Homo sapiens: one gene and its partners. The protein of the gene in region 2 interacts with the protein of the main gene of each other region in a pairwise test. Each region holds a gene or a part of one and is shown on either strand. Other genes may lie near its edges.

The links.
Region 1: the proteins of VGLL4 (region 2) and MEF2A interact in a two-hybrid assay, tested with the Homo sapiens proteins (one study listed by BioGRID).
Region 3: the proteins of VGLL4 (region 2) and TEAD4 interact in binary tests that used the Homo sapiens proteins (3 or more experiments, as listed by UniProt).

What each region holds. Positions count from the first base shown.
Region 1 is NC_000015.10:99,707,006-99,717,625, reverse strand, and holds the end of MEF2A (myocyte-specific enhancer factor 2A), read right to left. Parts: intron 6,993-10,620; coding exon 6,866-6,992; intron 5,237-6,865; coding exon 4,855-5,236; 3' UTR 1,138-4,854; downstream 1-1,137. UniProt on the Homo sapiens protein: Transcriptional activator which binds specifically to the MEF2 element, 5'-YTA[AT](4)TAR-3', found in numerous muscle-specific genes. Also involved in the activation of numerous growth factor- and stress-induced genes.
Region 2 is NC_000003.12:11,632,091-11,642,710, forward strand, and holds part of VGLL4 (transcription cofactor vestigial-like protein 4), read right to left. Parts: intron 1,332-10,620; exon of another isoform or gene 1,027-1,331; intron 1-1,026. UniProt on the Homo sapiens protein: May act as a specific coactivator for the mammalian TEFs.
Region 3 is NC_000012.12:3,016,358-3,026,977, forward strand, and holds part of TEAD4 (transcriptional enhancer factor TEF-3), read left to right. Parts: intron 1-1,040; coding exon 1,041-1,169; intron 1,170-2,187; coding exon 2,188-2,231; intron 2,232-2,757; coding exon 2,758-2,813; intron 2,814-4,276; coding exon 4,277-4,416; intron 4,417-5,486; coding exon 5,487-5,660; intron 5,661-10,620. UniProt on the Homo sapiens protein: Transcription factor which plays a key role in the Hippo signaling pathway, a pathway involved in organ size control and tumor suppression by restricting proliferation and promoting apoptosis.

The DNA of each region.
Region 1 (10,620 bases), on a different chromosome or scaffold from region 2:
GAGCTCGTCCTCAGCCCAAAGCCTGCAACAGCTGGGATCAGGGCTTACCTCTCACAGACGGGGCTCAGCAACTTTCTGCGGGATGAGGACACAAGCCCACTTGACCTGGAACGTCTGAAACCTCCTGGCCCCGTGGAAGATGGGAAGAAACACTCCTCTTCCTCTCAGTTTTACAACCGAGTGGTCCTCGGGCTGCTTGTGAGCACCGGACGACCGACCGAGCAGGCTGCAGCCAATCAGCTGGCACAGGGCTCCGACTGAAAATCATCTTGGCTGGTGCCACAGAATCGGCCTGAAAACAGGATACTGCCTAGAGCAAGGCACCCAGGGGAGCCAAGCAGGAAAATGTAATGAATTGACTTTAAGTAGCTGCAGCTGTGATTAGAGTATTTTTAGCCACAGGACTCAACCAGCTTTCAAAACCTGCTAATAAGAGCCCCACCGTAGCCAGCGCAAAAATTTAGTTTTCAGTTTAACACCAGGAATCTGCTTAGCTAGGAGCTGGCTTAGAAGGCACATCAGGAGAGAACATCTTCTACTGAAAGTTGAAGATTTTTCATTTTCTAGCTGAATTATGACAAAGGGAGATGACCATTAAGTGCCTGCCAGCATACTGGGACGTACACCTAACACTCTGAAAACTCAATTCATGCCAGCACATCTGTCTTCTGCTGCATCTAGCTCAGCATCATGTATGTATTTTGGGCAAAACTAATCATTTCACACCCTAGACTTTAAAGAGACCCAGAATCTAATGATAGCTAACATACCCACCCCCTCTAACAGGCTTTGGCGTATTTCCTGTGAGAAGCAGTTACTGGAGGCCGAATGGATTCCACTCATCCACAGCACTGTGCATGCAACAGCCAGATTAGGCCCCGGTGGGACTGCGTGGCCCACTGCTTCCTATGGGCTCCAGGGCTGCCCAGCAGGGATGACCCGGGAGCCGACAAGGGGGAGGCCAGTGGGGGCGTTGGGACGGTTTCCTTGACCCTGTCTCAACCCAGAGAAAGAAGCCTGCAGGTGAAAAAGGTCTTCGTGAAAGGAATGAAAAAGGAGAGGGCTTTAGGGGAAGGGGCTGCCTGGTGGCAAAGCCAGCGCCTTGTGTCCCCAGGCAAACATGACAGAGTCTCGACGCACAGGAAGAGCCAGTCCGTCTTTACTGGAGTGAGTGCGGGAGACAAACAGTTTACAACAACCTTTAGCATTGTCTTCACCATTTGATAAAAAGTTCACTATTATATTTATTGTATAATGAAGAAAAACAACACATTCAGGGAAAAATTGAGATTAACTTATTTTTCTTAAAAGGTTCATCTCAAGGATGGCAACAAAGTCCAGCTTGTGCCGCCAAACGGTTTTACATGATCAAACCGTGTACAGCTTCTTGTGTGAACTGTTGACTACAAACATTTACCAAATACATAAATCTCTTTTAAAAAAGCCATTTTAAATATAGCAAAGCAGTGTCTTCTTGCACAGCAAAGTGAAGAAAGTTTCTACAGAGAAATAGAAGTTTTACATTTGTAAAATCTTTTTCACATTCTAATCATCTAGCTTAAGATCCAATGCCAGGAGTTTTCAGCTTCCTTATTTACTATGTATTTCTTGTGCGCATGATGGTTAATACAGAAATTATGTTGATGCATTACTAGTTATCCTTCTAGTTAAAGGAAAGGGTAAAACATGTATTGTTCTTGTAGAACAAACCCCTGATTTAGTCTATAACAAAATGGACATAATTGGGCTCAAAAGATGGAGTTTTGATTGGGACCACCTGTGTACACACAACAGTGACTTCCACTCGCGGTGGAGTGGCCATTAGAGTACTGAGGAAGGACAGCTGTTGGAAACTGTACTTTAACCAGTGCAATTTAAGCTTTTTTTGCTTTTGTTCTTTAGTAATAAAATACTTCTGGAGGGATAAAATTTTCTTGCAATGGTGTCTCATACAAAACACGAGTCTAAAAGGGTAAGAAAAGACGGTTCTAAAGCAACACCATTAGCGTCGTCCCCTCTCTAGGCTGGTTTCCACCCAGAGATGTGGATGTGGGTGTGTTCACACGTGGGCGTCTGGGTGAGAGATGTCTGTCAAGTCCATATGCTCCATGCCACACTGGACGTATGGGAAAAAGGTTAACAGTCAAATATTCAGTTCCTGAAATGGAATACATTGTTACTTGGTCAGTGTAATTTAAATACAAACTCCGAGCCTTGAGTAGTAGTATTTTAGAAAACAGTAGTTGTACTGATTATAAACCTGCATAGAAAGAAAGACTATTGAGATACAGTCAGAAAAGCCATCTCATAAGGCACACAAGAAAATAGACAGTAAATGTGAATGTGTTAACTCCTATTCCAATGTACAGCAGAAGTTCATGAACATGCATAAATAATAACGAAGGAATCACTTAACACTTTCAAAGCTATAAATGGTTTACAAAGTGGTAAGGATTATTTTGGAACTTCAGTGTTGGGAGACTGTCTTGTTTGGATTAGGTGTGGCCTTATGAAGAAATGTGCCTGTAAGTAGTTCAGTAAAGTAAGTACATTTTTAAAGAAAAATCCTTTCTGAATAAGAGCCTAATGTCTATACTGAAGAGAGGAGACAGCATGTCATCCTCCTTTTTTTGGCCTCTCTCAAAAGTTACTGCCCAAACTGCCATGAGAACAGAACCTCCAGTTTGCAGCCTGTGGTGCGCAGGTCTCTCCTGCACTGATCATACCTATGTGTCAGTCAGGAAATCTGGCTGATGACTTGTCACAAACAGCAGATGAGGAAAATGTCAAAAGGAACGTAATTTGGGGGGGGGGTGGGGGGGGGGGAACAAAATGTACATAGAAATTGTAGGTAGCTGCTCAATATCATTTAAAATATAAAATAGCAATTTTTAAACCCTTGAGTTTTTTAGGAAAAGGAGTATTTAAAAATCTACAATGAAAGATATACAGGACTTTGAATTTTGCTCATGGCACAAGCCCAGTAAGTGGATGAACTTGCTATCATCCATTAGTTGTCTTCCTGAAAGAATAAGGCCTTGTTCAAAATCCAAGCTGAGGGTGGCACTAATTCCAATTAGAATGGCAAGAGTCATGCCAAGGACCAGCACCCTAAGAGTGTTTCTCCCCGCATACCAAAGCATCACTGCAATGTGCAGAAGAGCTGATAACGGTAGGATTTTGTAACCAGCTGCATCGTTCTGTTTTCAGAGGGTCAAGGAAAAAAGATCCCTTTCCCCATGATTATTTTCCCCTAATCATTTACCACTTATAAAACCTTTGTGCTCATCTACTATTTTGCCATTTTCTCTAATATTAATTAAATTAGGTCAGCTTTTTCTACTACATTTTTTCCTCACAAAAGGCAAGTTTTAAATAATGCCTTACAAAATCTGTTACAACACATTTTATACTTATGCAGGATGAACTTAACACCAATTTTTTTTGCCACTTTGCTATTTATGTACACATACAAAATATATAATGATGCTCAACCCATACAGCACAAAGATTACAATGTAACATCACACATTCACCACCAGTGAGGGGAGAAACCCCTTTATACAATCCTCTGAAAAAACTGGGCTAATAATTAAAATCCAAAGTACAGTATATTTAACAAAATAGTAAATATTAAACAGTGAATACTTAATAAAGGACCTCGCCTTTTCCCCCCAGATTGGCGGCAATCCACAAAAATATACTTTTTAATCTGGTGACCATACAATACATAGGTACTTACATCAAAGGTGATAATATATTTAAGATGCTATATACACAAAGAGTTTGGCTCAACTTTTAATTTACATTTAGAATAAGTGTTCATGGCTTTTTTTTTCCAAGGTTCTGCTTGCAAGATATTTTTGTTTTCCCCTCTTAAAATAAAACTAAAGAGTTAAACCAAGATAAAGCTATTCTCTAAAAAAAAGTTACAACATATAGCTTTGGCTTATATAAATAATTCATAGCAGAATGTGTTCAAAAGTAGTGAATATAATTTTATATATAGTCATCAATTCATAAGGGTGTTTTCTTTCATATAAAATATACATGAGCTAAAATCAGTTTCTTTAATTTTTAAGATATGAATGTAAAAAGAAACTTCTGACATATTCCAATTATAACTTAATATATTAATTTTACTTTGTTAATGCTCTATATTTCTAGGCTAGTATTTTCTGAATATCTCATGCGTGTTTTCTATTCTCTTTCTTTATTAGCTAAAGATCACTTCTTGACCCAATACATTTTTGCACGTGCAAAACAGTTATGTGTGGGGCTTTTTTGTTTTGTTTGTTTTTAATATCAACAGCCCTTTCCCATGCACCCCTTTGCAACAGACACCCATGCCAGGTTGGAAAATATAAATGACATTTTATGTACAGTATTGCTTTCTTGGTTCCTGCTTTTCTACTGCTCTGTTCTACAAAGCATTTTCTCTTAAGTAACTACAGTCACTGCACAGTTAAATAAAACAAGTAGGGGGCCCTCTAGGTTTCTGCAAGCTAGTGTGGGAGAATTATATATGGGTACACGTTTCTCTGCAAAAACTGGTTATCTTTACGAAACAAGTAGTCCAAGGAAGTGCCAGACTTGTCTGTGCCTACAGGGTGCTTTGTCTGCCATGGGACACACATCTGCAGACCTACAAGGAGTTTGCAGGTAAGTGCCTGATTCTGTGTATGTAACACACACCCACACATACACACTCACACCCACATACATATATATGTAAAGGGATATATATATGTATGTACATATAAATATATTTAACTCATGTCCTTATTTACCGATTTAGATATGTAGGGCAGGTCACTGCAGTAACACAAAAGTACAAACATCAGCTTGGAAGCCTTAGGTCACCCACGCGTCCATCCTCATTCGCTTTACAGAAGGGCTTTCTCTGTCCTCAGTGTTTGGGGGTCGGCCAAGCACAATTGGAGAATGGAAGTCGCCCCGTGGATCCTCCCGATCACTGCCATCATAGGAGCTACTAGAGCTGCTCAGACTGTCCACAGGGGAGCGCCCCATTTCCTGTCGGGGCTGGGGCTGCGGGGGTTGTGGCTGGGGCTGCGGTGGTGGCGGCGGCTGCTGCTGCTGCTGCTGCTGCTGCTGCTGCTGGAAGCCCGATGGGGTCATACGATCCCGAGGAGGTGAAATCGGTTCGGACTTGATGCTGATGTTTTGGTTGGTATTAATGGATAAATTGGAACCCTGAGATAACTGCCCTCCAGCACTGAAGGAAAAAAAAGAGAGAGGTCAGATGGCTTGCAAGTACCTCTGCAAAACTGGGATGATACAGTAGAGACACTGCCTGATGGAAAAGGGCCCAGAGTCTGAAATCTTATCAGAGTTCCCCAAGACTGGTTTGGGTCGTTTCCTTCAGTGCTTGGCACAAAAGGAAATCCCATCTTCCTAGGAGGAAAGAAAACAGTACCGTTGAGCCCTTACGTTACTTGGTTCTGTTACCCACAACGTTGGTACTTTTGCAGCTAAAGTATACAAAACAATGTCAGTGTCTTAATGCTGTGCAGGGACCAGAAAGACAGAGGAACAGCAGCCTCATCTGCTCACCGCCTCTTCTTCCTCAGCATCTGCTCCCCATCTGCTCTGGCCCTGTGACAGGGCACAACATCGCTCATCCTCGCAACACCTCTAAGGTGCAAGTCGCACCATCCCCATTTTCCAGATGAGGAAATGAGGGGCTGGCTGAGAGCAGTAGAGGAGGACGCAAACAGGCTGTTCCCCGGGCCTGGGCTCTGAGCCCTTTCCACTTGCTTTTCCAGGACTATTTTTAGTGCATTCATTTAGGATGCTCAGGACAGGCCTGAGGGCCAAATCCTGTGTAGGCAAATTTCCCTGAGATACTCTGCTGCTTTTTCCATGACATAATTCCTAAGAAGACCACTGACAACAATCCTCACTGTGCAGTTACTTCAGAATGGATGAGGGAAAGGGACTGCTGAGCTCAGGCTCTCTGGGGACTTCCTGGGCAGAGGCTAGGGGCCTGGGGTATTCCTACTGCCCAGAGCACAGGCAAGGCAGCCAGTCTTCATGGAGGCCAGCTGGGTCTGCTATGTTGTCCCCTCTCTTGGGACACTCTCCTCCAACTGCTCCATGGGTCTGCTGTCATCCTGGTTCCACAAAAGCCCTGTTCTTTCTCCCGGCTGTCAGGGATGTCTGGCCTCATCTGGGCGCCACTGTAAATCCTCTTTGCTTATATCCTTACACCCTGCCCATACGGAACATTCTCTTTGTGAATGAGGTTTGGTGTGTGCATTGGGCTGGGATCAGTCACACAAATCCTATGGAGCCTGACTGATATATAAGACACCCTGTCCCCAGTTTTCCTTCCCTGTGGCCCAGGGAGAAAGCAAAAGCTCCAGCTTGTCTTCCTATTCTTGTCTACAGATACTCACCAAAGCAGTCAATGGCAAGGGTGGCAGGGAGGCCTGAATGCCTACAGGCTGCCTTTCAAGCAGTGCAGCCAGAGGCAGGTGCTTGGGAGCAGGGGTGCAGTAGGCAGCTTCATCACTGGTCAGAGGGCAGAAGGATGGTGCATGCGGGTGGTATCTGTGCCTTCAGACCCCTTCAGATCCTGGTTGAGTCTCTCTACCTCAGGATGTCCCTATGGGAGAAGCCTTGCTCCCCAAATCCCTTCAAGGAATGCCTAGTTTGTCAGTATCCAAGCTACTGTCTAGAGCCATGTAAGAAAATATTTTCTCCCGACACTTGTATCTACCTGAAAAGGAATCATTACAGGATTCCTCACACGAAACTCAACAGAGCAAAAGGCTGTCACTGATAGGAAAAGAGAGTGTGTAGGCCAGGAGTAAAGATGCAGGGAAAACTTCTAGTTACTCACACAAGAGAGCTGAGGGCTGCTTGTCCTAGGTGGTGCTGCTGCCAGGCCGACACCTGTCCCAGCGACAGCATTCCTGGCGAGTTGAAGCCTTGAAGGGCTGACAGGTCAGCGCTGGTCAGTGAATAATCTACAAAGGAAGACAAGAGGGCTCTGCATATGATGGAAGGTCCATACGGAATCTATTTTTTACGTAGCTACTGCAAAAGTTCCTACATTGAGGCCAGCCATGCTGGCTCATGCCAGTAATCCCAGCACTTTGGGAGGCCAAGATGGGCGGATCACTTGAGGTCAGGAGTTTGAGACCAGCCTGGACAACATGGTGAAACCCCGTATCTGCTAAAAATACAAAAATTATCCAGGCGTGGTGGCGCATGCCTGTAGTCCCAGCTACTTGGGAGGCTGAGGCAGGAGAACTGCTTGAACCCGGGAGGCAGAGGCTGCAGTGAGCCGAGGTAGCACCACTGCACTCCATCCAGCCTGGGCAACAGACTTCCTCTCAAAAAAAAATAAAATAAAAAGTTCCTACATTGAGAGAAGCCAGATACTTCACAACAAAACAACATACATGTGGGTCTAAAATCCGCAAAATCTTTTCTTGGAAGATTTACAGGATCTAGCAATATTTCTTTGTCTGGGATGATTCAAATAAGAGGCCATCATTAAAGAGTGTTCTGTACAATTGTTACTTTAAATATGCCTGCCACTACCCTTTGGAACAAAGAGAAACACTCAACCTCAACCAGAGTGAGTTTGAATCAGCAAGTCTTAATGAAGCAAGGGGTTGGGGGACAGGGAATAGGGGACAGGAAAGACAGAATCCCTACATGGGGTGCCAAGCTCAGTGACATCATTACACAATTAGTAAGCGCATTTGTTTAAAGTACCTAGACTGTCGCAAACTCCCTGACAGCATGCAAGAGTTTCAACTTCATGAAAAAACTCGGTGTCCTAGAGTATACCCAGCTCATATCATATGAATGCTTCAGTCGTAATCACTGGGACCAAGATTTAGGACGTTAGTTATCACTCACACGGGGAGTTATTTCAGCTCATCATTAACACTTGTCTTTCTCACTTGGTTCCAAAGAGAGGTGGCAAAACTCTTCTACTTTTATCTTCTTTCTCATGTCTCAAGAGAGGTGTTTAAAGAAATTGGTCTTCCTAGTGAATTAACATTTTAAAAAAGGAACGGAGTTGAAGCGACACAGCTGGTGCTCAGGGCTGTCCTGACTCTGCCCTTGTCATTCTATACACTCCCATGGGCTGGGGCAAGGACCCGTCACACTGACGCCTTCCCCAGTGCTCCCTCCGGCCCACAGTCTCCTTCGACCTCTAGATCTTTTAAACGACCTAGTGCCATGTCCATTTGGACGCCACTCCAAACGCCACACATCTGACATGGCCCATCCTTTCCTGCAAACCTGTTCCTCCTTAAGTACTCTTAGTACATGGCACCAACATGCACCCAGCAGCTCGTGCAGAAGCCCATGGGTGTTATCCTTGCTACTTCCCTTCCCTCTCACTCCCAACATCAATTTCCAGGTCTGAGCAATTCTATCTGCTCTCTCTCAAGCCTGCCCAGGTCTCACCATCTCTACTGCCACCTCTCTAGTCTATGCTATCAGCACCCATTGCTTGGACCACTACAGTAGCCTCTGATGTGGCTTCCTGGCATTGCCTTTTAACCCTATATACAGCAAAGACATCTTTTTAAAATAACAAATATGGTCATGGCACTCCTCTACTTCAAAAGTTTTTTATGGCTCCCCAATGCTCTCCGGACAGTTTCCAAAATCCTTGACATAGTCTACAAATCATTACTTACCTCTCTAGTCTCAATTCTAACCACCCACGCTCTGTCCCCATTCCTTCAGCCCCGTCCCGCCCGCAAACTCCTAGCCTTTGTACAGGCACACCCTCTCCCAAGAGCACTCTGCCTCCTCTGCCTGGCTGAGTCACGCATGTTCCTTCCTGTCCGAGCTGAGACACAGCCCTTGACACAACTGCAGCAGCTTATCCCTAGAGCTGTGTGTCTTGTGCCTTCCCCCCAGGCTTCACTGCTGACTGCACTCCTGCATTTCCAGTGCCTGGCACAGTGCCTGCCACACAGCAGCTGCCTGATAAATATTTGCTGAATAGATGTGGAAATAAGTTAAAAACAACATGGTAAACTTCAAACAGAGTAAGTGTTACGAGAAAGAGAAGAAAGATAAAGTCGGTCAAAAGGTGGCATGAGACTGACGCTAAGCGACTGATGATTTTGAGAGCCTGCCTCCATTTTTATATGCTTTGGTAATTTCTTTTATACTTTTAAAAAATAAATTCCCAATTCAATGGCATTTCTAAAAATAAGTATAGTGGAATTTCTAAGTATACTGAAAAACCTGTAATGAAACGGTCAGTAAACCATAATCTGACACCCAGTTCAAGCTCCCTCTTCTCAGCCAATACACCTTTGAACAGTATAGCTTTGCCCTCCCTTCTCAATTCTCAGAGTATAAATTCACAATCACAACAATTCAGGACTTCCCCTCCACGGTTACCCACTTAGGTATGTCCTGCCTCCTCACTTGGAATAAACTTGGAGAAAGCTATGTCCCTAGTACAGTCTCTCACAGAGCAGGTGATCAATGCGTCGAAACAGAATTTCTATGAATGCTTCATCCCTGGCTTTACTCTGGAACCTTGTTCTGTGCAAGGCACTAATAACAGGCTATGATTCACAATCCCTAAGATAGTATGCAGTTGACAAATTTGGGCATTATTTTTCATACTAACGGTTGGAAAAGTAATGGATATTTCCTAAGAGACTTTTTTTTTTTCAATAAAACCTTTTATTGTTGATTCTGTTTTAAAAGAACTTCTTAGAATTCAAGTGGCAATCAAATGTTATCAACGCTCTGTCCCCTCACGTAGCTGCGGACAGCAGTTTCAAAGTTCTGTGCCAAAGCATTTACCCTGAAGGCTAAAATCAGACCATCTTTACCACAGTCTACTTATGACACTCAGGAGAATCATAATAACTTCTCTGCATTGCAGTCTCTGAGTAATGGGCAAGGGAGAATTGAACTACTGCCGTCTTCCTCTGAAGCATCAGGTGTTTGGCTCAGCTGATGAGAAAGCGAAACCACATGTGTTTTCCACTCCTTCTTAGATTGGTAAATTTAAATGAAACCAGCTGCCCTCGATTCTCCATACAGTCTGCTTGGCTAAAAGCACTCCTACGATCACTGTAATATTCTTAAACTTTCCTAATACAACCCCAAATTAGGGCATTTTAAGATGAAATGCCTAAATAAACATAAATGAAGGAAAAGCTCCCCTCAAAGGCAGAGTGACTGGCTCCGAGGAGAAATCAGAACAGCCCTTGTTTTGCCCCTCAGGTGCACATGACATGGACCAAGCTAGTGGTTACAGGGAGGAAAACAGCCTGTTCGACACAGCCAAACGTCGGCCACCTCCTGAAGTCTCAGGTCCAAAGGGATTCATGTCTTTCCCAAAGCAGGTTAACACAGCATAAAGACAAACATCTTATTTTAAAAGCCTGGAAAAGCGTGATACTGTATGAAGAGAAACTACATCAGCAATACTCAAGCAACAGGCTGCTCCCCTCTTGGCTTGATGCATGTCACCATTTTGCTATCATCCACGTGGCTTTGTGTCAGGGGTTAAGTGAAAGTTCACACTGGAGAAGCCGGAATAACTTACTCATCGCACTATCCACACTATCCATTTTGTTTGTAATTTTTTCAAGG
Region 2 (10,620 bases):
ATCGCCTGAGGTCAGGAGTTCAATTCCAGCCCAGACAACACAGTAAAACCCTGCCTTACTAAAAATACAAAAATTAGCCGTGTGTAATGGCACGCACCTGTAGTCCCAGCTACTTGGGAGGCTGAGGCGGGAGAATGGCTTGAACCCAGGAGGCAGAGGTTGCAATGAGCTGAGATCGTGCCACTGCACTCCAGCCTGGGTGACAGAGCAACACTCTGTCTCAAAAATAAAAAAAAAATAAAATAAAATTCACTGAATTTAAAAGTTCTACATATATTTCATTCCTATTAAGACCCAAGACGAACCATTTCATCTTTCTTTTTAAAAAAGGCTAATAATGCTTCAATAAATGCTAGTTCCCAGTATAGTGACAGATACAATGGAGTGAGGCAGTCTGACTCTGGCCATAGTTAACAGATCAAGGAAAAAAATCCCACACTCCTAAGATTCCAAAGAAATTTTCTGCAAGTTTCCTTAATGTACTTTAAAATCCTTCAGAAGACCATGGGGAAAATAAATCATCCTCTCAAATTCATATTCTGAAGTTTGAAAATAAAAGCAGTTCCTTTTCATGTTTGGATATAGTCACTCTGAACAGTAAATCAGCTAACAGACATCAACCTGGCATAAGACTCTTCATAACCTGTAATTATCTTCTTTATTTCCCTGTTGCTCATCTGTCTCCCCTGCTAGAACATACACTCCATAAAGTCAGGGATCTTGCTGTCTGTTTTGCTAGCAGCCATATCCCCAGCACATAAAACAGTTCCTGGCACATAATGGGTATTAAATATTTTCCCATCAGTGATCAGTTCGTTTAGCAGACTGTCCAAAGTCAAGTAACTAGAAAGCAAGACGAACAAGGGCAGCTATCTGTAATCAAGCAGCCAACTTCAAATGTTTTCCTACAGAAGCTAAGTCCTAAAGAGTTTTTCTTCTCTCTCTTCCCCTCTTATTAATATTCCTCCTTTTCCCAGCTATCTTTCCTGCCTCTAAGAACAGTATTCTAAGAATTAAGAAACTCACTTGTATCACCAACTCGCTGAGTATCCTTGGGCTAGTCAGGCAATTTCAATGCTTATCTTTAGTCAAAAGACACTGGAGTCATTCATAAGGAGACAACACTTGCCTGGTGTGAAGAACGAGTAGCTGCAAGACAAAATCCTAGCCCTCCCAGAAATTAGAGTAAGCCAGACAGAGGAGGGAGGTAACACAGCGAGATAAATTCCATGGCAGAAGTATGCACAGCATGCCATGAAAATACAAACACCTAATCCCTCCAAGAAGGCAGAGGAGGGCCAGGAGCGGTGGCTCACACCTGTAATCCCAGCACTTTGGGAGGCCAAGGCGGGCAAGATCACGAGGTCAAGAGATCAAGACCATCCTGGCCAACACTGTGAAACCCCGTCTCTACTAAAAATACAAAAAAATTAGCTGGGTGTGGTGGCACGCACCTGTAGTCCCAGCTACTCAGGAGGCTGAGGCAGAAGAATCGCTTGAACCTGGAAGGCGGAGGTTGCAGTGAGCCGAGATCGCACCACTGCACTCCAGCCTGGCGACAGAGCAAGACACCGTCTCAAAAAAACAAAAAAAAGATGAAGAAAAGAAGGCAGAGGAGAGGAGGGTCACTTTCCAGAAGAAGCCCTTGCCCTTGAGGGACTAATAGGAGCCACGAGAAAGGAACAGGGAGATTTCAGATAGAGGCAAAAGGGCTTACTCACAGGAAGCAGTTTCACGTTATGTGGACTGCAGGGTGTGAGCGAACATGGAAAGTAAGGCTGAAGAGGTAAGCCGGAATGATATTCTGGTAATATTACAGATGTAAACCTAGAAGAAGATGAGATTAGAGGCAGGGAGCAGTTTAGAGATTATTTTAGCAATTAACAGGAAAATTAATGGAGACCTCGTAAGAGAGGAGTTCCCAGGACCTCTTCAACCTATTCCACCCTTTGCCCCAGGTGACCACGCTCACTCAAAGCTTCAAGTATTCTCTATCCAAGTATCTCCAGCAGCAGCCTCTCCTGAGCTCTAGAACCATATACCCAACTTTCTATTATTTATCTCTTCTTCGAAATCTCAGAGCCTTTAAACTCAACGCAGCCGAAGCTAAGCCTATGAGCTCACCCCAGAACCTAGTCCTCTTCCTGTGTTTCCTGTCTCTGCAGATGGCAGCACCACCCATCCGCTTGTAGGAGCTGGAAACCTGGGAGGCACCCTTAGTGTCTCCTACGTCCTCTCCCTCATCCGCTGTTCAATCCATCACCAATCCCTGCCAGGCTCCTCCCCTAAGGATCTCATACGTCTATCCACTGCTTTCCTCTGTGGCCACCGTCAGAATTTGCCTTACCCCTATCTCTTGCCTAAGCCAGTGCACCAGGTTCACATCCTCTCCTATTACTATTTCATCTCTTATTCCCTTCCAGTCCATTCTCAAACTGTGACAAAAGTTTGTTTTTAGTGCTCATCAGCCTGCGTCACCCTTTTATGCCCGCCTACTCACCCCGAGGAGCTCCATCAAGCCCCTCTTCACTGGTGTTGCTCACCATATGTGCACCAGCACCTTATTTCTGAAGGAATGAGGACTCAGGTTTTTTTTTTTTCTTTTGAGACCGAGTCTCACTCTGTTGCCCAGGCCAGAGTGCGGTGGGATGATATTGGCTCACTGCAACCGCCGCCTCCCAGGTTCAAGTGATTCTCCTGCCTCACCCTCCCGAGTATCTGGGATCGCGCACCAGCATGCCTGGCTAATTTTTATATTTTTAGTAGAGGCGGCGTTTCACCACATTGGCCAGGCAGGTCTCAAACTCCTGAGCTCAAGCAATCTGCCTGCCTCAGTCTCCCAAAGTGCTGGGATTACAGGCGTGAGCAACCGCCCCTGGCCAGGACTCAGTATTTGAGCAAAGGGAGGCAAGAATTTTAAGAATTTGTAAAAAGTCAGTATTGCATGGCATAAAGAGACTAAGGTAAAGACTAAAAAAGACTGAACTTGCCACTAGGATATCATTTAGTGACCGTGTCTGGAACAAATTCAACAGAGTTGTGGGAGCAGAAATCAGAGGACAGCAGATTAAGAGGGAAAGGGCAGAAAGGGAGTAGAGGTGAGCTGGCCTTCTTCCAATAACGTGGATGGCAAGGACGATACAGTCTAATGGCTGGAACAAACACAAGATTTAGGGAAGGGTTTGTTTTTGTTTTAAAGTTGGGAGAGACTTGTATAGGAGCACATGATGAAGGGAAAGAAGCAGGAGAGGAAGAGGAGGGTATCAGAACAGAAAGAGATCTGTGAGCACCAACAGAACAATCTGCCTTCATTTCCCCTGAAGGAAGGAACATGAATGGTGATGAATTCAGAAGAGCTTGCAGGCAGGGAAGCAACATGTGGTTCTTTTATTTTCTCTAAGATATAGAGCAGATTCTTCCAGCTCCACAAGAAGGTCCTCTCCCACTCACTCTCTCTTTATTGGACAAAATATAGAACCAAATACTGTATGCACTGTATCAAACACCAAGAGCGCAATGCTTGATGTCCACTGTGAGTTCTGGAACTTTACCTTGTTCCCTACCAGTATCAGCCCTCTTTTATTGGTATGAAGCCTCTAATAGAAAAAAGCCTCCCAGCCTGGTCTCCAGAAACTGGTGTTAACTGCTCCGAATTTTGAATTCAGCAGAGCTGTGCTAGAAAACTGCACATAAGGTTTATACTGAGAATGACAGCTATTTTCCATTCCCTTTACTTTCTAGTCGGTAGAACTTAAAGCCTGGCACAGCTGCTATTACATATTCCTTAAACAGCGAACCAGATCATTCTCGTGGGTGATTTTAAGCATTAGAGAAGAGGTCATAACTTTTCAGCAGGAAAATAAAACAAAGGTTCTTTCTGGGGTCAGCCAATAGTTTATCAGTGGCTCATCAGAAAAACAATAGTTTAAAAGGACTTGCGTAGTTAAGAATGGAAGAACATGGGTAAAGAAAAAAACTGCTGACATTAAAATAGAATTTTAAATTAATCTCTTGTCGCGTTAATAGTACTGCCATATAATGGAAGATGCATTTATTTTCTAAGGGGAAAATGTCCAGAAACTTGCACTCATCACTCCCTTAACTGTTATCAGGGAAGAAGTGTAGAGTCTCCCAGCTGGATTATGGGTAGTGTAAACATCTTTGCTAAATTGCTTGGCAGAGTACATCTGCATCAAACCATTAGAGTCTGGAATTCACTCTATTAAAATCAAATCATTAGCCAAGAAGAATTAACAGGAAACTATTTTCATGCAAAACAGATATAAAATAAAAATCAAGAGCAATACATGAGTAATTCTTTTTCATTCACAATTTTAGATGGTGCATAATGCAGAGTATTGTTTTAGAAACGTGCTGCTCTCTAACAGCCATCTCTATACAATATAGGGTATTGTTTGGATACTGGAGCAATTTAAGCTTTTTCTATGTATCCAAAAGTCCCTGGATTAAGATCCAAAGAAACCTGGCACAGCAACAAAGTTGACTTGTAACACATCTCAGCCTTTAAGCAAATTGTTTATTAATGCAGCAGGAAAGTCGCTGTTCAGGCCCTAAGTAAGCTATGTATCTCCGGAAGTGTCCCCCATGTTGCATTCTCCAAAACTGTGCAGAATTTTCTCCTAGTTTTCCATTACACCAAGGATGGTGGGAGGGCTTCAACAGGTGATGAAGAATGTGAACAAAATACTAACTGAAAAAAAAGTTCTTCCCAAAGTATCACCAACTCTGTTTAATAAACAGTGGAGCTACAGATGAATGAGAAGGGAAGCTGGGACATATATTATCTGTATATAATGTCTGTATATCCCACAGCCAAGAGTTCTCACACTCAAAGAGACGCTGGCTTCACATGGAGAAAACAACCTCTCAGGATGTGTGCACTACTTTAAAAGATCTCACAAAAAAGATACAAAAGAAGGCATACAGGCATCTCCCTATACAGGGTAAAAAAAAAAAAAAAGCTAGAATTTGTTTAGAATTAGACACATGGTAGTAAAGGTATAAAGAAAAGCAAGTTACAACTGTGGTGAACTCTTGGGGCTGGGAGGGATCTGATCAAAAGATAATACCTGGAAGGGGCGATTTACTATTTCTTGACCTGGCCATAGTCACCGGGTTGTTCATTTCTCTAACCATAAAATACACATTTTTATACACTTTTCTGTATGTATATTTCATTATAAAACATGTTGAGAGATCGATCCCTAATACATTTCTTAGTAGAGTATAGGCATTCCATAAATGTTTAATAACAGAATGGATAACAAAATGGTACTAGTACTAAGTTTTCTCTAATCACTTACTAGATATATTTCAGTTTGTCATGTTTACAGACTTCTTTGCAAACAAAAGAGTGAAATATTAAGAGTTTGGAACGATCCTATGCATAGCAACACATTAAAGAGGACTTTTAAGAATAGATTCTCTATTTCATTTAGAGTAAATAAACATTCTTTCAACTAGTCATGATTCACATTGATAGGATTAAAACATTCTATACATAATACCTTGAAATTAAAACAATCAACAGAATTAAACAACAATGCAGAAAAGGCAAGACAGCAAAGCAAAGTGACAAAAATAATTCCTTCGAACTTACAGAACATGTAACATTCAGAAAGGAAAGGAGAGCAAATGAAGAAAGCAAAATCATTTTCAGGTCCTGCTTTTAAAAATAAGCAACCACGGTTAGGATTTTGTTGTGGAGTTGGGGGGTGGGAAATGACACATGAGTTCATTAAAAAATAAAAGACGGAGAGAAAACTGTTTTGGAATACAATGCAGAGCAAGTCTTAAAAAACAGTTGCCATGAGCTTCAATGTGCAATAATAAATACCACTAAATAGAAACCGCCACTGAATAAACGTCAGATACTTTGAGATGACAAAGATCGCCAGAAACATTCCCTGGTCCGACTGTTTTTATATATTTGTGTACATGCGTAAGTGCTAAATCTGGATCTAATTTCTTCCTGAAAAAATCCAGTTTTCTGCAACATCCTCACAGTCAGGGAGAACTAAGCTATATTGAGAAGTTTGGAATCTCCTCACGTGCCAAGGAGGATTGCTTTCTATCTTTACCGCATGTTTTAAAAAATCTTCACAGCAACACATCCAGGCACCCTAGGAATACAAGGCCACGCAGACAATAGGGAACGGAGGAAGGAGGGAGGAAGACAAACCTGGCCTCCAGAAGGAGCCAAGTGTAGGCTCCAAGAGATAAACAGCCAAGTACAATAATCTTTCGAGAAGCGGGCTGAGAAACAAGGGTGGGAGCTGGAAGGAAGGGTATAATCACACCTTCCTTCACAAACTGTAATTAGGAGAAAGACACCAGCCAGGCCAGCTCTCTCGCAGAGCTCCTGGGCTCACCTGGGCATGTTTTACTAACCAAGCTCCTCCTAGTTTCTTTCTCTCTCTCTCTGTCTCCCCCTTCCTCCCTAACCCCCACTGGCCCCCACTCCCTATCCTTTCCTGCAAGTAAAAAGCTAAAGTAAAATGACTTTCCACAGCAAAACAGTTACAGATGTTCTACCTCGGAATACATCCCAGATCAAGAGCTCGTCACTTGATATGCAGGGCTGGGGACCAGGAGAGGGTACGAAATGGCCCTGCGCTGTGGCCTTTTCACCTACCCAAGCCTCCTAAGTTTCCTGAAGGTTCTGAGCTCATTAGACAAAGAACAATGAAGCCAGGACTCCACTCAACCGCTGGTGGTTAGACTGGTGGAAAACAAAAGATCACAGGGTCTCACTGAACTCAGCAACTCTCCAGTGTGCGTCTTCCCTTCCATTCCAGAAAATTAATTTAAAAGTTGCCCGTGATGAAACAAGGGATAACTGTGCCTAAAACAATGAACCGTTCTAAAGCTTGAAGTCGGAATAATTCGCTCTTAAGCTTTGAGAGGATCACACTATGCAATGTATTCCTACTTTCTCCCAATATAAATCACGCTATTAAATTAAAAGGAGAGAATTCTTCCACCAAATTACACACTAATGGCTCTTAACCCATAATTAAAGTATCGCTACCAGCAGTGTAAAGCCCCAGCCAGCCAGGGCTCAGACCCAGGTCTCAGCCCCAGGGATGATGTCAGTGCAGCGACAGCGATCTTGAGGAAAGCCCGTGGTCTAACCTGTCCCTGTCCCTGCTCCCTGGGGACTGGCTCTGGAGCTGGCATCCACGCAGGCCTCCTCCTCTGCACAGGCAGACAAAAGGAAAGCAAGCCCAGTGCCAGAGCAGCACGAAGAGCACCTTCCAGCGAGGCCGGTCACTCAGAGGTGTCTCACCTACCCTTTCCCCAACATCACAACAGCCTCGGAATTTGGACCAGCAACTGGCTTCAGAGCAAGGAGAAGTGGGAGAGGCTCCACTGTGTGCTGTAATCCAGGGTGTTATCCCCGTGCTAGGCCGTGAGGGCACCCAGGACGGGGCATGACCCTAACATCACGGAGCTAATGAGGAGATAAGACATGAAATAAGCCCGGCGCGGTGGCTCACACCTGTAATCCCAGCACTTTGGAAGGCCAAGGCGGGCGGATTACCTGAGATCAGGAGTTTGAGACCAGCCTGGCCAACATGGTGAAACCCTACCTCTACCAAAAATACAAAAATTAGCTGGTCATGGTGCAGGGCACCTACTGTAATCCCAGCTACTAGTGAGGCTGAGGCAGGAAAATCACTTGAACCCGGGAGGCAGAGGTTGCAGTGAGTGGAGATGGCGCCACTGCACTCTAGTCTGGGCGACAGAGCAAGACTCCGTCTCAAAAGAAAAAAAAAAGACATGAAATAATTCTGGAGAGGCAGCACGGCATAGAAGATTCATAGAAGAGTCAAAACTCAATTCAATCCTGCCACAAACTTTCTAAATAAACTAAATCAACTCTCTGAAAAACAGAGTTTCCCTCTCTGAGCCTCACTTTCCTTGGTGAAAACAAGGCAAAGGTATTAGATGATGTCTGAGGCCCTGGATAGCTCTGCAATAATTAGATAGAGAATACAAGGCAGTATATAATCAAGTATTAAATTATACAGGAGCAACTACAGCTGCCATTGAGAGCTTGCACTGATTTTTTTTTGAGTCAGCCTTCATTCTAAACCACTTCCTGAAAGCCCACTCAGACCCTGTGCTAGGATTCAGGGATGCAGCGGTCACCAAGACAGAATGCTCTGCCTTCACGAGGCTTTCGCCAGTCTAGTAAGGTATTCTCAGGTGTTCAGAGGAGGGAAAAAATGAGGGCTGGGGTTGGCCTATGACCTTTGCATGGAGACAGAGGCAAAACTGGGCTTCAAGTGGGTATCATCTGAGCATTCAGTGGGGTGATGGACGCAGTGGTTAATTGCTGAGTACGGTAGTAATAAGCCATGAGGTTCTGAACACATAGCACAAGCCCAGTTCTACTAATCCGCTCATCATTAGTGAAGGGAATTAGTTAGCTTCCAGAAGTCAGCCAGACTTCGATTCTTCCGGCCCTCTCCCTAACGTCTCCTTCTCCCACCCCAAACCTGCTAATTGTGGTTAACTTTTTCCCTTTATTCTTTTCAGTTATTCTTGCAGACAACTATGGTGGAGGGCAGGAGCCAGGAAGCAGTTACCAAGGAGGGAGTCCACATCTAAGCAATATGGAGTCAGTCAGGAAGGAAGACCTTGTATGCTACAAGGTAAACGGCTAAAAAGATCGATTTGCGTATTAAGTCACAAGAGAGGTTTAAGAAAGACAGTACAGGCTGAGTGCGGTGGCTCATGCCTGTAATCCCAGCACTTTGGGAGGCTGAGGTGGGTGGATCACCTGAGGTCAGGAGTTTGAAACCAGCCTGCCCAACATGGTGAAACCCATCTCTATTAAAAATACAAAAATGGGCCGGGCATGGTGGCAGGCACCTGTAATCCCAGCTACTCAGGAGGCTGTGGCAGGAGAATGGCTTGAACCCGGGAGGCAGAGGTTGCAGTGAGCCAAGATCGCGCCATTGCACTCCAGCCTGGGGGACAAGAGCGAGACTTCATCACCAAAAAAAAAAAAAAAAAAAAGACCAGACACATGGTTTATTTTAGAGTAGAGCTATGTCTCATACAACTAAGGAATATGGTATAATTTAGCTGGTAAGAATAATTAACCATCCGCATCTTAATTTTTAAAACTAAAATGTCATAAAATTAATTTGTCCCTTATTCTTAAGGGGCATGAAACTTGACTGTGCCCTAAATGAAATCAAATGTTGCCTACCAACAGTACATTCCATTTTCCAAACAACTTCCCTGGAATGCTGGGGAGCTGATATGTTTAAAACGAATATTCTCCAAGTCCAAGTGTTGGATTTTAAAGAACCATAACCTTTCCAACTTTTCCTACAAAAAAATCCCGTGTGTGATTTATGCCCATCTTCAAAACACCCTCTGGAGTTCAGACCAGATGTGTGCAGTGTTTACACTGAGAAAACCACTAGGACATCAACAATTCACTATAAACACCACTCAAATTTTGCTGTGCTTTCCTTCATTTCCTCTGTATTTATTCTGGTGTTAAAATAATGTTAACTCTCATAATAAGGAAAATAGGAGCAGATGTTTAAACCAAACAGACTTCAGCCCATTATCCCATATAGCTACTCAATCTTCAAAATCAAAGTTTCTTCCTCCCAAATACCGAGAGAGAAGAGCAGAGCAGAGCACTCTAGTTTCCTGGGTGTTGCATGCTACACAACAACTCGACCTGGGCTCGCTGTCCGTAAGTTGGTCCTCACCAATCGGAGACAGGAAAAACTAATCTGGTATCAATTTCCTAACAATCTTATATTTCTCTCTTAGGCCATTATGTTTTGTTTTTAAAATATCGTATTACTTGTTGGCAAAGACAATACAACAGAAATTGCCTCAGAAGTTTTTCTTTCTTGTTGGGGGAAGCGGGGATGGTTAAAAAAAAAAAAAACAAGAAAAACAAAACCCTGACTACAATGTGTGAATGTCACGGGAAACAAGCCCAGCAATGGCTGCTTACGGCTTTCTAAAGTCGGCTGCCTTTTTTAAGTGAGTTCAGAAGCAAGATGTTACTTAACACATCAGATGCAAAGAAAGAAATTCACGAAAATTCTCATAGCAGGAACTAGTAGGAGTAAAGAAAAACAAATACTCTTTTTAAAAAACGTTAAATATGAGATCCTCATCCATAGAGTTTTAAAAAACAACGTGAATGAGGGTTGTTGTTGTTTTTTTTCCTTGAAGGGGAAAAATACTCTTGAAAGGGTGAGTTTTCAACTGATTAGGAAACAGGCCTGAAGTTTTTAGATTAAAAAAATACAAGTGAATCACCCTCCCAAGTTTTTGTAACTGTTTTCTTTTTCAAGAGAAATGTCCCGTGTATTATTGGAGAAAAAATGGAAACTGCTCCTGCTGAATGAGAAAGAGAAGAGTCCCGGATGTGTGTGTGGTTACAACAGAAAACACTCTTCCTGCCAGGCCGAACTCCCCCGGAGATGCCCTCGGCGGCAGACCCAGGGCCATTGCCACTTTTTCAAATCGCACGTAGAGGATGTCCGAGGGCTTAAGAAATAGATTTTTCTCTGACTGCTACCAGAGACAGTTGGAAATACAAGACAGTGGGGG
Region 3 (10,620 bases), on a different chromosome or scaffold from region 2:
GTTGACTCAGTCGAGCCATTTAGCCCCGATAAAGCTGCAGACAGTGAATAATACTTGCTGTTCCAGCCCGTGTGTGTGTGGTCTTATTTTGGATAATCCCTGCTGGGTACAGTAACGCATGCCCGTGGTCCCAGCTACTCAGGAGGCTGAGATGGGTGGATCATTTGAGCCCAGGAGTTTGAGGCTGTAGTGAGCCATGATTGTGCAGTACTCTAGCCTGTGCGACAGAGTGAGACCCTGTCTCTGGAAAAAAAAAAAAAAAGAAGAAGAAAAAGACACAGTTTCCATTAGGCTTCTTGAAATAGGGAATGTTGTGTCATTGGTTTTGAAGACCTTTGGAATTCGGGCACTCAGGATGGAAACCACTGGCTTATATGAATATAACAAACGATTACTATTGTTACCCGTGCCATCCAAGTGGCTTTCCCTGTGTGCTTATTTGTTCCGGGCCTATTCAGGGTGAACCCATCCTCTGGGGTCTTGGAACCTTTGGAGGGCAGACAGTGGGTATTTACACTCTGACACATGAAAGATGGGTGAGTCCCAGGTGCCTACAGTGCCCAGGGAGATCCTTAGGGCAGGACTGAGGCAGGAGGGGCCACAGGAGGTGGTCTCTTGCCTCCAGACAGCCCGTGTGGCCAGGGATGATGCTTCCTGTGCACTCGAGGAGGGATCCAGCAGATATTCATGCATCGTTTTCACAAGACAGGTGCTGAGCTAGGCACCTGTGGTAGAGAGGTGAGCAAGGCATAGAAGGTGGCCCCGTAATTAATAAAATGACAGATAATGTCTCTGTAAGCTCTGATGAAAGAAGCAGGGCAAGTATCATGCCCCTTTGACAGATGAGAAAACTGACCAGAGAAACCAGCTGACTTTCTCAGTTGCAAAACAAGTTAATAGCACGGCACAGACTTAACGCCTGGTCCCCCAGCTCTGGCCACTGGCAGCGAGACAGCTTCCCTGACCCGAGGGCCGGACCTGCCTGGCCTCAGCCTGACTAGTGACCCTGCTGAGGTCCTCCCTTGCAATGTCTCCCCCAGGACCAGGCAGCTAAGGACAAGGCCCTGCAGAGCATGGCTGCCATGTCGTCTGCACAGATCATCTCCGCCACGGCCTTCCACAGTAGCATGGCCCTCGCCCGGGGCCCCGGCCGCCCAGCAGTCTCAGGGGTAAGTGGGCTGCCGAGAGCTGGAGGCCAGGCCAGCCCTCTCCTCCTCCCTCCTCCCTGTTCAGAAGAGCCAGAAGCATTGGCCAGCCCAGATTTCTCTCACCTGAGTCCTCTTGGCCAGGGCAGTCAGGGAAGGAGGGAACAAGGACCCAAGGGCCACACACATCCCGGCTTGGCTGGTATTGGGACGGCTTTCTTGGGGTCCTCGGCAATGACTCCACAGACTTCACAAGGGGGAAGGGGGAGCTTCCAGGAGCTGACCACCTGGTAGCTCTGCCATGTTGGCCTAATTTACAGATGAGGAAGCTGAAGCCAAGGGGGCTGAGCGGAAGCCTGAGACCAGCATGTACCTGGGCAGCTCGTGCCACGCAGCCTCATTCCTGCCCTCCTGCCAGGTGGAGAGCTGGTGCCCCAAAAACAAACCCCTGGTCAGATTTTAACTTTCCCAGCCATGACCATGTTGGCCACACTCTCAGAATGATCCAGAAAGGCCCCTTTTCAGAGCTGTCTCCTCACAGGGGCTTTCTTGGCTCCAGGGACTAAATGAGTCTTCAAGGCACCTGCAGCACCGCCCTAGGCACGTGGGGAAGGGGCAGTGCCAGGCCACAGCATTTTTCAAAGTGCGTCCCAGAGAGCACTAGTCCATCTGCATGTTAAACAGATAGGACACAGTGGTTCTGTGAGTAAGTTTGGGACCCTTGGCATTAAGTGGGTTCTTGGCACTGGGACTTTTCTGAGCCTTAGGTCTGCACTGTGACTCTGCAGGAGTTGCCCTGTGCTGTGTGGACCACACCTGGGTGCTTTTCCCATGGAGCCCCTCCTCCACAGGGCCTGAGAGCCCCCTGAAACTCACTCTGGGGGTGCTGCTGTGGCCTGTTAGCATTCACTAGCTAGGCGAGGCCTCGGGCTCCAGCCTCTCCTCCCAGTGGAGGCCCTGCCCGGTCCTACCCCCACCCCCACACCACAGGGCCCCGGGTGCACCTGGGGCCGTGCTGATTCCATGCCTTTTGCCTCCTCAGTTTTGGCAAGGAGCTTTGCCAGGCCAAGCCGGAACGTCCCATGAGTGAGTATGGCCTCTGGTTTCTCTTGCCAGTTGCTCCCTGAACTGAACTTGAACCCATAAACTCATGGCATTAAGCCTGGGCCCCAGGGTGTGCTGGGGCCGCTGCTGGGGTCGGCCTTTCAGGATGGCTCTGAGCTCAGGGATTGGGCTCTTCTACTGTCAGCCATCACTGGGCTCATCTGTGATGTCTACACCCTAGGGTGGTATTTGCCAAAACTCCAGTCTGTCCAGGGTATAGGCAGGGCCAGAGCTGGGGTCCCCCAGGGGAGGAGGCTGGGAAGCAGACCTCTGGCTGGCCTGGGAGGAGGAGAGGGAGGGGTGGATTTCTTCAGCAGACACGCTGTGTCTGTGGACCCGCCACGAAACCCAGGGGAGTCGGCAGGGGCGGGAGTAGGAGGCCAAGGCCCATCGGGACCACTGAAATCCAGACCACCAGGACCTACCACACAGACCACTGGACCCAGTGCAGGGATCCGGGGCGGTGGCCTGCCCGAGGCTGACACCTCCCCTCCTCTCTCTCCCGCAGTGTGAAGCCTTTCTCTCAGCAAACCTATGCTGTCCAGCCTCCGCTGCCTCTGCCAGGTGGGTGGGCGCTGCGTGGCCCCCTTTCTATCGCAGCCATGTGGCTCCTGCCTCTGGGTCCAGGCCCCCGGCAGCCGAACGCCTGCGTGTCCCTGTTAGATGCTGCCCCGTCATGCACACTGACCACACGTCCTAGTCCCTGGCCACACCCCATTCCTTTCCCCCAGCATGCACACCTCAGCCGTGTGCCAAGCCCCTTCATGCCCCTCGGGTTGCCTTGCTCCTGTCCCCTCAAAGCTGTGCTCAGGGCTTGTGGGGCACGTGCAGTTCCAAGGGCAGTGCCCGTGCCCTGGCGGCTGCCCCACTTGGCCGGCCTTGTTACTGCAGTGTGCCTCACACACCTGGTCCTGGGAGGGCCGAGGGGTGTCTAGCTCACCAGCCTGGAGCCCCTCCCGAGAAGAGGGACCCTTGTGGGAGAAGACCTGGTGGAGGCAGCCAGCGGTGCTGACAGGAGCCCCCACCCCGCCCTCTCACTGACAGGCTCTGCTCTGTCCTCGTCTCTTTCTCAGGAGGGGCCCTCACCACCTCCCACTCTGTAGGACAAGACCAGCTCCTCACTCTTAAACTGCCCTTTCTGGTGTGGAGTCTGCCTGCCCGGCCCCTTGGCTTTCCCTGCCACCAAGAGCAGCCCTGCTGCCTTCTGTCCCCCAGGTCCTGAAGGCTGCTTTCTCTCGTTCACACATCAAAACAAAGTCACAGCGTCAGGTCCCGTCCACCCTCTGTCTCATGCCAGTCTTCTGTCCACACTGACCATGTCTTCACTCCAGGCCTGCTGGCTTTTGCCTGCGTTCCTGCAGCAGCCTCTCCACCGGCTCGCTGTCCCGTCTCACCTCCTCTCGTCACCCTGTCACTCACCAGAGCTTCAGTCTCACGGTGTTGCTTCCAGGTTTATGGTGCCTTCCTGGCCCCCTGGTGCCTTCAGGACACGATCTAAACTACAGTAGGACTGGAGTAGGTTCATCTGTTAGCAACGCTGGATTGAGGGGCTCTTCTGGGCCAGGCCCTGTTCTGGGAGCGGGGGAGACACATGTGATGCAAACAGGAAACGTCCCCGTCTCTCCGGGATGATGCCATATTGTAATAGTGGATTCATCTGGTTATTTCCCCGACTGGAACAGAAGTTGCTTGAGGGCAGGAACTTAACAGTGCCTGTTCTGGAAGCCTCTCGGTCCTGCAGGGCCCCAGCTGCCCTCCAGAATCCAGTCTTGCTCGGCGGTTCCATGCAGAGTGCTGAGTGGCCCGAGTTGTACCAGGCGAGCCCCTCCCCACCAGGGCAGCTCCAGGATGCCCTGGCCCAAGCCTGGCACTCCCTCCACCACCTCTGCTAGGAGGTCCATTTAGGGAGACAGGCGGTCCCCCCAGGCAGCACGGGTCTGTCCGAGGAGGCCTGGGGTCCTTGCAGAGGGTGCGGGCAGGGCGGGTGTCCGTGACCAGGTTCCATGTGCCTTTCTCACTTTGTGCAGGGTTTGAGTCTCCTGCAGGGCCCGCCCCATCGCCCTCTGCGCCCCCGGCACCCCCATGGCAGGGCCGCAGCGTGGCCAGCTCCAAGCTCTGGATGTTGGAGTTCTCTGCCTTCCTGGAGCAGCAGCAGGACCCGGACACGGTAGGTCCTGGCCTCTGCCTGTCCAGCTCCCTGGTCACCCCCTCTCCCTCTGTTTCTGCTTCCGGCAGTCTTGCCCCACTCCATGCTGGGGCTTAATTCAAGTTCCCTGTTCCTTTCCGATCTTCCCTTCTGCCCTTCCCCCCACTCCTCCTTTCCTCCTTCACGTCACCCCTCTTCCCTCTTTCCCTCCTCCCTGGCTTCCTTTCCGTGTCCCAGCGCCCAGTCAGCGTCACGCTCCTCCCTCCCTGTCCTGTGTTCCTCCTCCCCTCCTAACCCAACCGACCCTTAGTCCAAGGTTGCTCTGGTCCCAGCCCCACCCCTACACTGTCCCAGCCTCTCTCTGGTTCTGAGAAGCGGGCAGGAAGCTGAGGAGTCTCCTGTGTCTGCTCCATATCCTATGGGATACCAGCCTGTCCCCTTCGGTGTCCAGTGTCCTGGGTGACCAGCGTCACCTGCAAAGGTCAGAGGGGGACCTGGAGGAGGCCAAGGTGACAGGATGCCAGGGCCCTTCTCACTCTGACATCTTCAAACTTCTTTTTTTTTTTTTTTTTCTTGAGACAGAGCCTCACTCTGTCACCCAGGCTGGGAGTGCAGTGGCATGATCTCAGCTTACTGCAACTTCCACTTCCTGAGTTCAAGCGACTCTCCCGCCTTAGCCTCCGGAGTAGCTGGGATTACAGGTGCCTGCCACCACACCTGGCTAATTTTTGTATTTTTAGTAGAGACTGGGTTTCACCATGTTGTCCAGGCTGGTCTTGAACTCCTGACCTCAAGTGATCCACCCACTTCGGCCTCCCAAAGTGCTGGGATTACCGGTGTGAGCCGCCGCACCCGGCTCAGACTTCTTTTTAGCTGAGGAACCCATGAACCAAATAGACCTTTACTTAGAAGTCCAGGATGTAAAACAAAAGGAGTAGACTTTTACCATCTCTATTTTACTCATGGGGAAACTATGGCCCAGAAAGGCCAAGCGGCTTGCACCAGGTCACGTGGTGGGCACGCAGAGCCAGGGTTGTCTGTCTGACCGTCTGGCCTGTGCTCCGTCTCCCTCAGACCCACTCTCTCCACAGTACAACAAGCACCTGTTCGTGCACATTGGCCAGTCCAGCCCAAGCTACAGCGACCCCTACCTCGAAGCCGTGGACATCCGCCAAATCTATGACAAATTCCCGGAGAAAAAGGGTGGACTCAAGGATCTCTTCGAACGGGGACCCTCCAATGCCTTTTTTCTTGTGAAGTTCTGGGTAAGCCTGTGATAACCCCTTCTTTCCTGCCACCAGCGTGTCCGTGGTAGTGAGAACGGGGCGAGAGTGCCCAGAGTGTGCCCTTGTCACAGTAGAAACTTGGGGAGGTGGCACCAGTGAGAAGGGGAGAGTAAGCCCAGCATGGCTATGGGATGGTTGGAGCTGAGCCGAGGAGCGGGGCGGTGATCCCAGAGAGCTGGCCTAGTCGAACGAGGCCTTGTCTCACGGGTGGGGATGGCAGCTAAGCCGGGCTAACAGTGGAGCCCTCAGGAGGTGAGGAGGTGTAGTTCCAGAAAAAGACAAACGGGACCCTGCGGGGATAAGTGAAGACATGACTAGGAGCGCCCTTGTCACCCAGGTCTTTGAATGACAAGTCCTGCATGGGTTTCCGGGCCTGGAGCTGGTCCTTCGGTGCTCGCGTCCAAGGCATGTTGGGCTGAACAGAGCTTGGAGAAGGGGAGGGAAGTGTTGGATGGGTCACCCAGCTGACTCTGCCCCAGGGCGAGGCCACCCCACAAGAAACACCCACCCAGCTTCTCAGATAGCTCAGCCTGTAGACTTGGCCTCTGCTGCCCTCCCACCTCACCCCGGGCAGGTATTTTGTGGGTGGAACCTCCTCCATTGAAACGTCTTGTCTGAGGCCGGGAGGTACAGTAGCTGCTCTGGGAGCTTAGCTTCCTGGGGGCCCAGTGTGTGCAGAAAAGGGGTGCGAGGAGAGAGTCAGACAAGTAAGTGCTAATGAAGCCAGCGGTGAGGAAGGGCAGGAAATCAGGCTCTGTGACTGAGGCCTCCAGTATTCTCAGGACACGGACTGAGGCTTGGGTGGCTCTGCCCGCATCCCTCTTCCCCACTCCCCTTCAGCTCTCCTCACGCTCTTTTCAATGCCTCTTGTGCAGAGATTCTTACCCTTTATTTACTGCCAGACCACTTTCATAATCTCAAAGCTTTACTTTTCCTAGAAAGAGGCATATTCACACCGAAGTTTATATAGACGTTCAGATGGCTTGCCGGCTCCCGGTGAGCAGCTCCCAGCCTGGCTCTCATCCACAGCTGAACATGGGGGCAGGCTGTCTCCAGAAGGGGCAAGTGTTGGAACTGAGACCTAGGGCCCCTGACCTTTAAGACACTTAGCATTTGCGCTCTGCCAGCGGAATGGAAGTTGGACCCTGGCCTGAGGGATGGGCACATCTATTGGCAGAGATGGGAAAGGCTGTTGCGGCCTGGGAGTGCATGAGTAGTAAAGGCAGAAGGAAGTGGGCTCTGGAGTGAAGTTGAAGCCGTAGGTAAAGAGGGAATAAGAGGAGACAACTGGGAGAGTGAGTTAGGTTCTGGAAGGTCTTGATCATACTAAAGTTTGAGTTTTAACCTGTTCTGGAATGAAAAATAAGTAGTATTTTATTTTACTTGGTCTTCTTTTTAAATCAATGCATGTTCATGGTTAAAATGTTAATTAATACCAGGAGCCTTATTTAACGAAAGAGAATGAAGGGCCAGTTGCGGTGGCTCATGCCTGTAATCCCAGCACTTTGGGAGGCTGAGGCGGGCAGATCACAAGGCCAGGAGTTCAAGAACAGCTTGACTAACATGGTGAAACCCTATCTCTACTTAAAAAAAAAAAAAAAAATTAGACAGGCGTGGTGGCACACGCCTGTAATCCCAGCTACTCAAGAGGCTGAGGCAGGAGTAATCGCTTGAACGTGGGAGGCGGAGGTTGCAGTGAGCAGAGATGGCGGCCACTGCATTCCAGCCTGGGCAACAGAGCGAGACTGTCTCAAAAAAAAAAAAAAAAGTGAAAAGCATCATATTCTTGTCCTACTCCTCCCCACACCCAAATCCCAATCCCCAAAGGTAGTCACTGCAAATTTCAGCTGTTTATTTTGGGCTTTATCTCTTTAGTTCTAAGTAATATGCTTATATTGCTGTATCTCGATGTCAGGATTAAGACATTATATTTTCATTTCATTATGGTAGAAAAAATTAGCTGTGTTACATCACTTTTCCCCCTCATCATCCCAATGTAATAATATCCAATAAGTTATTTAATTTAGTAAAAGTCATAAAATGTTCACTTTTTTTTTTTGAGTCTCGCTCTGCCACCCAGGCTAGAGGTGCAGTGGCGTGATCTTGGCTCACTGCAAGCTCCGCCTCCCGGGTTCACGCCATTCTCCTGCCTCAGCCTCCCGAGTAGCTGGGACTACAGGCACCCGCCACCACGCCTGGCTAATTTTTTGTATTTTTTTAGTAGAGACGGGGTTTCACCGTGTTAGCCAGGATGGTCTCGATCTCCTGACCTCGTGATCTGCCCGCCTCAGCCTCCCAAAGTAATGTTCACATTTTTTGACAATGTAGATTGAACACCAAAGAGCCAAGAACGGGCTGGGTGTGGTGGTTCATCCCTGTGATCCCAGCACTTTGGGAGCCCAACGTGGGCAGATTACTTGAGTTCAAGACCAGCCTGGGCAACATGATGAAACCCCATCTATACAAAAAGTAGCTGGGTGTGGTGGTGTGTGCCTGTGGTCTCAGCTACTCAGGAGGCTGAAGTAGGAGGATTGCTTGAGCCTGGGAGGCAGAGGTTGCAGTGAGCCAAAATCGCACCATTGCATTCCAGCCGGGTGACAGAGCAAGACCCTGCCTCAAAACAAAAAAACAAAAAACAAAACAAAAGTACAAAGAGTCAAGAAGGGTATTATGATTACATTTTTACCTCTTGTACAACTTTTTTTTCCTGCAAATAAATGGCTCTTGCATATTTTTTAATAAGCCTATTCTTAAAATTTTACAAATTGCTCCATCAGAACCACCATATAAAATTAAAATTTTTTTCCCCCAAATATTCAAAACTGTTAGATAATTTATCAATTTCTCCTTTCTTCTGGAGATCTTTCTCCTGGCTGCCTCTGTTCTGCTCCAGTTTGAACGTGTTATTCTTTTTTTTTTTTTTTGAGACAGAGTCTTACTCTGTCGCCCAGGCTAGAGTGTAGTGGCGCGATCTCGGCTCACTACAACCTGTACCTCCCTGGTTCAAGCAATTCCCCTGCCTCAGCCTCCCGAGTAGCTGGGATTACAGGCACCCACCATCATGGCTGGCTAATTTTTGTCTTTTTGTAGAGACAAGGTTTCACCGTGTTGGCCAGCCTGGTCTTGAACTCCTGACCTCAGGCGATCTGCCCACCTCAGCCTCCCAGTGCTGGGATTACAGGTGTGAGCCACTGCGCCCGGCCTGAGCATGTTATTCTCTAGGCTTGCCCTACAGTTGTCATCCTGAGCCTCCCCTATATTGATACAATTTCCTAGCTCTTGCATTTCTCTCTTTATTGGTATAACCCCTTCATTTTGTGGGAACACATCCTCTAGTACCTTCTAAGAAAAGATGCATGGTACATAAATGACCTTGCTTCTTTGAAATGTCATTATTTTTATTATATCCTTATACTTGACTGATTGGTATTGGTAGTCTGGATAAAGAATCTAGATCATACATCATTTTCCCTAGAAAATGATGACTTTTTTTTTTTTGAGACAGGGTCTTGTTTCGAGATGGAGTTTCGCTCTGTTGCCTAGGCTGGAGTGCAGTGGCGCAATCTTGGCTTATTGCAACCTCCACCTCCCAGGTTCAAGCAATTCTCATGCCTCACCCTTGCAGGTAGCTGGGATTACAGTCGTGTGCCACCAGGCCTGGCTAATTTTTGTATTTTTAAGAGAGATGGGATTTTTCAGTGTTGGCCAGGCTGGTCTTGAACTCCTGGTCTCAAGTGATCCTCCTGCCTCGGCCTTCCAAATTGCTGGGATTACAGGTATGAGCTATCGTGCCTGGCCTAGAAATGATTTTCGAGGATCATTCTTTAGTGCATTTGTCATTATCTTCTGACATAAATAGTCTGATAGCATTCTAATTCCCTATCCTTTATTATGTAACTTTTTTTTTTCCTCTGGAAGTTGTAATGTTTCTTCTTTCTCCCTAATGGCCAGTTTCACATTGGTGAGCTTTGGGATATGTGTTGTTTTACTTCCCCGTCTTGAGCCAGGTACTTGGTAGGCACTTTTAACTGTGAGATGAGTCTTTCAGTTTTAGGAAATGTACTCGTATTATTTCTTTGATAATTTATTTCCCTCTGTTTTCTGTTTTCTTTTCCAGGAATCTCTGTTATGATGTTGGAACCCTCTATGATGTTTACCATTTCTTTATTTTCTTGGACTTATCCTCTACGATTTTTACCATTTATTTTCAATCTTGGTCTGTTTTCTTAGCGATTTCCTTAATTTTGTATTCTGACTCTTTTCTGAATTAGTTAAGGTTGTGTCCAAGTGCATATCACACAAACCCCAAAGAAACAGTGGCATAAATAGTTTTTCTTTCACATCAAGGAAGTCTGGAGGTAAAGACTGTCCAGTGCTGGCCCAGTGCTCCTGACATCATGAGGGACCTGGCTTCTCTCTATCTGCTGTCCTCAGTGTATGACTTCTGTACTCAGGGTCATGACTGCTGGAGTTCCAGCCACTGTAGCCATCTTCCAACCATCAAAAGAAGCCAGTTTAGCTCCCTGTAAGGGGCCTGCTGGGAAGCCCCATAATTAGTTGTGTGGCTGCATCTTGCCGTAAGGAACCCGGGAAAGGTACTTTTTTAGTTGGGTAAGTTGCTGTTCTGAATAAAATCAGAGCTGTAATACTGTAGAAGAAGCTGCATACATCCTTTTATGGATGTATCTTAGTTCAGTTGATGACATTTTGTTTTTTCTGGGTAGTTTATAAAGTGTGCATCCTACAGTTAAGGGTGAATTAGATGAGTGGAATACAGCAGCATCTCTGCCACACCTTCTGTTGAATATTTAATTTCGGCTCTGACATTTTAATTTTCCAGAGCTCCTTCTTGTTCTGTGATTGCATCAAGATGTTTGATGGATGTAGTTTTTCTCCTCTTTTTCTTAAAGGTATGAAGTAAGTGTTACTTCTTAAGTTT